Homo sapiens: one gene and its partner. The protein of the gene in region 1 purifies or fractionates together with the protein of each later gene. This does not show direct contact. Each region holds a gene or a part of one and is shown on either strand. Other genes may lie near its edges.

The links. The genes of interacting proteins can lie anywhere in the genome.
Region 2: the proteins of STAC2 (region 1) and F11R purify together in Homo sapiens (affinity purification with mass spectrometry; one large-scale study listed by BioGRID and IntAct). This does not show direct contact.

What each region holds. Positions count from the first base shown.
Region 1 is NC_000017.11:39,212,994-39,215,945, forward strand, and holds part of STAC2 (SH3 and cysteine-rich domain-containing protein 2), read right to left. Parts: intron 2,238-2,952; coding exon 2,125-2,237; intron 2,031-2,124; coding exon 1,958-2,030; intron 1,869-1,957; coding exon 1,798-1,868; intron 1,426-1,797; coding exon of another isoform or gene 1,414-1,425; exon of another isoform or gene 1,354-1,413; intron 1,338-1,353; coding exon 1,240-1,337; intron 581-1,239; coding exon of another isoform or gene 566-580; coding exon 514-565; intron 140-513; coding exon 2-139; intron 1-1. UniProt on the Homo sapiens protein: Plays a redundant role in promoting the expression of calcium channel CACNA1S at the cell membrane, and thereby contributes to increased channel activity. Slows down the inactivation rate of the calcium channel CACNA1C.
Region 2 is NC_000001.11:161,000,653-161,004,152, forward strand, and holds part of F11R (junctional adhesion molecule A isoform 1 precursor), read right to left. Parts: intron 702-3,500; coding exon 633-701; intron 476-632; coding exon 368-475; intron 126-367; coding exon 1-125. UniProt on the Homo sapiens protein: Seems to play a role in epithelial tight junction formation. Appears early in primordial forms of cell junctions and recruits PARD3.

The DNA of each region.
Region 1 (2,952 bases):
CCTGGTTCTCCTTGAGGCTCATGTAACCCTGTTCCTTGTTCCCGGAGAAGGGTTGGCAGCAGCGCCAAACATTCTCGCCTGGCCTCACCCGTTGCACAAAATTAGCTGGGAAGAAGCCAACCCGGTCGCCGATCTTGCCCTGGGGATGAGGTTGGCAATGAACACCCGCGCCACACCCCACCCCTGCTGCCCACCACTGCTTTCTCCAGACCCGGTTCCCACTCAGCACCAATGCCATCATCCTCCAGATCTAGGGCTCTCCGGATTCCAGCCCCCAGCCAGGTGGCTTCTGGGCCAGGAATAGCATAAGGTGAGCAGAGGGACAAAGCTGAGGCAAGGAGAGTCAAAACTGAGAGGATGTCCCAAGGGTTGGTCCTAGTTTTGGCTGGGACCAGTGGTTGGAGGAGAGGTTGTCTTTGGGGCCTGGAGAGAAGGTGGGGGCAGTGCCCATTGGGGGTGGGGGCTGCTGGGGTGCCTACCAGTGTCCCTCCACTCCCCACCCTGCCAAGTCACCTTCCACCAGTCCTCGTTAGAGTCATCCACCAGCATGATCCGATCTCCAGGCCTGGGGAGGACAGAGCTAGGGTTGCATATGGAGCAGGGAGTAGTGCCCCTCCCCATCCTAGCAGACCCTGGGCACCTGGGGGACACTGCAGTCCTCAGCTGGGAGAGACGATTCTTTTTTTTTTTTTTTTTTTTTTAAGATAGACTCTCACTCTGTCACCCAGGCTGGAGTGCAGAGGCACGATCTTGGCTCACTGCAACCTCCACCTTCCGGGTTCAAGCCATTCTCCTGCCTCAGCCTCCCGAGTAACTGGGTTTACAGGCACCTGCCACCATGCCTGGCTAATTTTTGTATTTTTAGTACAGATGGGGTTTCACTATGTTGGCCAGGCTGGTCTCGAACTCCTGACCTCAAGTGATCTGCCAGCCTCAGCCTCCCAAAGTGCTGGGATTACAAGGGTGAGCCACCGCGCCCCGCTGGGAGAGGATTCTTGATGCCCTCAGAGGACACCATGTGACCACAGGTACAGCAGGCACTCGCTGGGCAGCCCAGTCAGAGGGCGGGAGACACGACATTAGCATGAGTCACTCTTAGACCCTGGGCAGTTCCAGCTCCTGTCTGGGCTCAGCAGCCTCAAGCATGCAAGAAGGTTCCTGAAGGCCCCCCTCACACTGTGTTTCAAGGTCTGGGAGCGCAGAGCTGCCCAGCGGGGCCAGGTCACAAAGAGGACTTACTGCAGAGCCAGATCATTGTTCTCCTGGGGCAGAAACTTGTAGAGTGCAACGTAGGAGTACATGGGCCCCACATCCTTCCGCAGGGTGGCTTTGGGGAGCTGCGGGAGAATCTCTGGGTCGGTGACCGGAAAGCAGCACCCTCACTCCCCCCACTCTCCACTCGCTCTGAGTGTGCTACCCTGGGGGCTGTGAGGGGACACAGTGAGTCCTAGGTCAACGGCAGGGAGAAGTGAGACCCTCGTACATGCTATGCTCACCCACCCCAAAGCGCACTGGGACGGGAATGGAGAGGGGAGCCCCCTTCTGCCTGCTGTACCCTGGGGCTGCCTGCCTTTGGGAGAGAAGAAATGGGTGCAATGGGCAGTGGGCTGGGGGTGGGAGGGTAACTCCTCCTGCCTCCCATGCCCTCTCATCCTGGCATTGCCCATCCCTGAGGATAAGTGAGGAAGCAGTGAATCCCCACGCACCATGCTCTTGCCCCCCTATGAATCAATGGCAAGGAGAAATTACACCCGCTTCCCACCCTGACCTTCCGGGCCAATGCCAGTACAGGCTCACCTGCTGTCCAGGACTCTTCTCCTCTGGTCCTGGCCCTTCACTCTCTGCTGGGGCTGTGAATACTGGAGATGCTAGGGGCAGGAGAGGGAAAGGGTGAGAGGCAGCAGGGAGCACCCTCCATTGTACCCCATTCCTGCCCTTGATGCCCACCACCACTCACCACTGTCACCAGGCCCCTCCTCAGAGCTGCGGATGCTGCCTTCCCCATCCTCGGTCAGCTCATCCCGCTCACTCTAGGGACAGAGAGAGGAGAGGGCTCAGCCCCCGAGCCCACTGTCATGCTCAGACACCCCTCCCCAAAAGACCCCCCCTTTTTGCCCACCATACCAGGCTCCTTGTCGGGGACTCAGAGGTGCTGCTGAAACTGGAGCGGTTCATCAGTGCCAGGGAGGTGCCATAGCGCAGGGTCTCGTAGACAGGGTCCACCTTCCCACTGTCCCCTGCAGATTATCCACCCTCAAGGCCTGGCTCTGCCTCAAAGCCCTGCATCTCTAGTCCCGGCTCAGCATGCCCCAGGCTGAGCTTCCCAGCTGCCCCCTCACCTGTCCCTCCCAGGTCTTCCTCATCCCAGAGATGGCTCTGGGTCCTCCCATGGTGCCCATGCAGAAACTTGGAGCATCCTTGACTCCTCACTGTCCTCACTGCCCACAGCCACTCTGCCACCTAGTCCTCCCTCCTAGCATCCCTACAACCTATCCACATGTCTCCATCACCACTGCTAGCAGTCTAATTCACATCACCACACTCTCTTGGCAACTGTCATGGCCTTTCAACTGGTCTCCCTGCTTCCACTCTAGCCCTGCCAGTCCACACAGCAGCCAGAAAGCTTTTGTAGAAACACACAAATTACCCTTAGAAGAAAGTCCAAAAGGCTACCCTAAAATGGACCCCAAGGCCTCGTACCCATGGTCTCGTTTTTTCTTTTTTTTTCGAGACGGAGTCTCGCTCTGCCGCCCAGGCTGGAGTACAATGGCACGATCCTGGCTTACTGCAACCTCCGCCTCCTGGGTTCAAGCAATTCTCCTGCCTCAGCTGGGATTACAGGAGCCTGACACCACACCCAGCTAATTTTTTTGTATTTTTAGTAGAGACGGGGTTTCACCATGTTGGTCAGGCTTGTCTCAAACTCCTGACACTGTGATCCGCCCGCCTCGG
Region 2 (3,500 bases), on another chromosome or scaffold:
GACCTCCCCATAGCTGTTGCCGCCTTCCTCAGAGACCATACAAGTGTATGTCCCAGTGTCTTCCCGTGTCACGGACTTGAAGGTGATACCAGTTGGCAAGAAGGTCACCCGGTCCTCATAGGAAGCTACCACAAGAGGAGGCAAGAGCAAGGACAGAGTGAACTGGAGAGCTAAGGGAGGCTGATGAAGGGGGCATCCAAGGTACGCAAGTGCTCTCCTCTTCCCCCAGAAAGGGGGGTAGGAAGGCCATGAGGACTTCAGCCCCAGGGTGTGCCCTGGGATAAGGGCACAAAGTCTGGATCGTAGAATCCAGGCATGATAATCCCTCCACAACCTAGGCAATCAGGAAGGAGGAGAAGCAACTCACCTGTGATCTTGTTATTATAGCAAACGAGTCTGGTGGTGTCTCCTTGGTCAAACTTCCACTCCACACGGGGAGAAGAAAAGCCCGAGTAGGCACAGGACAACTTCACAGCTGCAGACAGGGTCAAAATGAGCCGAAGGAAGAAGCAGCAGCAAATACACGAGATGGGGAACAGCCCCAAACTGCAGGCTGGGCTGGGTGCTCTCTAGATCCCCAGGCGGCCGGCAACTGCTCACCCTCACACCCTCCATGGCCCCTCCCAACTCACGATTATTCTCAGGAATTCTGACTTCAGGTTCAGAAGAGTGCACTGTAACACTGCCCAATGCCAGGGAGCCTAAGGAGAAAGAAAGAGGTGGGCCCTGTCAGGAGTGGACAGAGAAATGCCAGGAAGAAGGAGTCACAGACCCAGTGGACAGGGCTTCTCCATTCACAGACCCTAAGAGGAAGGGATTCCAGACTTATGCTCCCTCTGGCTCTCACACTTTGTCACCATGATCCTAAATGTCTTCTTTAAGTGCTTTTTGCTACAATTGCCAGCTAATACTTCTTTTATCCATGGGAATGCAGTTTCTTTTGCTTCTAATTTTTCTCTCTGTGACTCCCAATAATCTAATTAGATTTCTACTAGTCCAAGGGCAGCTTCCAGAATGACATTTCACTGTTCAGAGAAAGCTTCTCAACAAATGATTGCAGCCACTTGTCAGGACAATCCTGGAAGGAAGCCAGCAGGGCTGGAGGCAAGGGATGGAAGGGAAGGGCAGAGCCATGATGAGGATAATAATAATACTCGACATTTGTGGAGCATGTGGTGCTTTTAAAAGTGTTTTCGTGTACATTATGACACGTTGCATCATTTGATCCTGGACACAAGCATGACAGATCGGCAAGACGTATATTATTATCCCGAGTTTACATGAGGAACTGAGAGTACAAGAAGTAAATGTGCCTAAGATCACACAGCTGGGGCCAGGTGCGGTGGCTCAGGCCTGTAAACCCAGCACTTTGGGAGGCCGAGGTGGGGAGGTCATGAGGTCAGGAGTTCAAGACCAGCCTGGCCAATATGGTGAAACCCCATCTCTACTAATAATACAAAAATTAGCCAGGCATGGTGGCACACCTGTAGTCCCAGCTACTTGGGAGGCTGAGGCAGAAGAGTCGCTTGAACCCGGGAGGCGGAGATTGCAGTGAGCCGAGATCGCGCCACTGCCCTCCAGCCTGGGCGACAGAGCAAGACTCAATCTCAAAAAAAAAAAAAAAAAAAAAACACACAACTGGTTCTGAGGTGAAGTTTGCACTAGAAGTGGGTTCAGATCACCTCATTAGAATATTCTACTTGCCAAATGGAGAAAGAAAAGAAAAGATAGTGTGTGCTGGGTGGAGGGAGGGAGAAGCAACAAGGCTAATTAAATAATATGGGGGAGGTGCATCAGGGTTCATAGGAGGGACCCACAAAGGTCAAATTAAGAACCAGTGACCAGGGATTCTGGGATCACATGATGCAGCTACAAACCTGCACTTACACAATTATTCTCATCCATGTTTTCAAAGTCAAATTCATGAAATATCCTTTTATTTGTAGCTTCAAGTCAGGACCCTGTCTTAGATAAATGTTTGTAGAAGTCAAGCACATCTGTTAAATTCAAGTACATTTTTCTTTTACTTAATTATGCACATAACTGAATATGGTCTCTTGACCTCTGAGACTCCCCTTCCTCTCTGAAATATGAAATAGATGTGCTCTAAAGTCCTTTAGGTTCTTTTTTTTAAATTTTGGCATTAATGTTTAGATAATATTTGTATACCTGTATTTCAATCTGATATAATAACACTATGAATTAGTCCAGATAAGTATTCTCTCTCCCATTTTATAGATAAGAGACTAAAGATATAGGTTACTCCTATATCCTTTTTCTCTTATTATACTCTCTATTTATTTGTTTTTTTTTTTTTTGAGACGGAGTTTCACTCCTGTTGCCCAGGCTGGAGTGCAATGGCGCTATCTCAGCTCACTGCAGCCTCTGCCTCCCAGGTTCAAGTGATTCTCTTCAGCCTTCCAAACAGCTGGGATTACAGGCGCTTACCACCATGCCGGCTAATTTTTGTATTTTTTTTTTTTTTTTTGAGACAGAGTTTCGCTCTTGTTGCCCAGGCTGGAGTGCAATGGCGCAATCTCGGCTCACCGCAACCTCCACCTTCCGGGTTCAAGGGATTCTCCTGCCTCAGCCTCCCAAGTAGCTGGGATTACAGGCATGTGCCACCATGCCCGGCTAATTTTGTATTTTTAGTAGAGACAGGGTTTCTCCATGTTAATCAGGCTGGTCTCGAACTCCCGACTTCAGGTGATCCGCCCGCCTCAGCCTCCCAAAGTGCTGGGATTACAGGCGTGATTAAGCCACTGCACCTGGCCTAATTTTTGCATTTTTAGTAGAGATGGGGTTTCACCACGTTGGCCAGGCTGGTCTCAAACTCCTGACCTAAAGTGATCTGCCCGCTGCAGCCGCCCAAAGTGCTGGAATTATAGGCGTGAGCCACGGCGACCGGCCTAATTTTCTTTTTTTTCTTTTGTTTTTTTGTTGAGACAGAGTCTCACTCTGTCGCCCTGGCTAGAGTGCAGTGGTGTGATCTCGGCTCACTGCAACCTCTGCCTCCCACATTCAAGAGATTCTCCTGCCCCAGCCTCCTGAGTAGCTGGGATTACAGGCGCCCGCCACTACGCCTAGCTAGTTCTAACTAGTTTTTTGTATTATTATTATTATTTTTTTAAGATGGAGTTTTGTTCTAGTTGCCCAGACTGGAGTGCAGTGGCGCAATCTAGACTCACCACAACCTCCGCCTCCCAGGTTCAGGAGATTCTCCTGCCTCGGCCTCCCTAGTAGCTAGGATTACAGGCAGGCGCCACCATGCCCGGCTAATTTTGTATTTTTAGTAGAGATGGGGTTTCTCCATGTTGGTCAGGCTGGTCTCGAACTCCTGATCTCAGGTGATCCACCCGCCCTGGCCTCCCAAAATGCTGGGATTACAAGCGTGAGCCACCGCGCCCGGCAATTTTTTGTATTTTTAGTAGACAGGGTTTCACCATGTTGTCCAGGCTGGAATTTCTTTTTTTTAAAGAGCTGGGTTCTTGCTACATTGC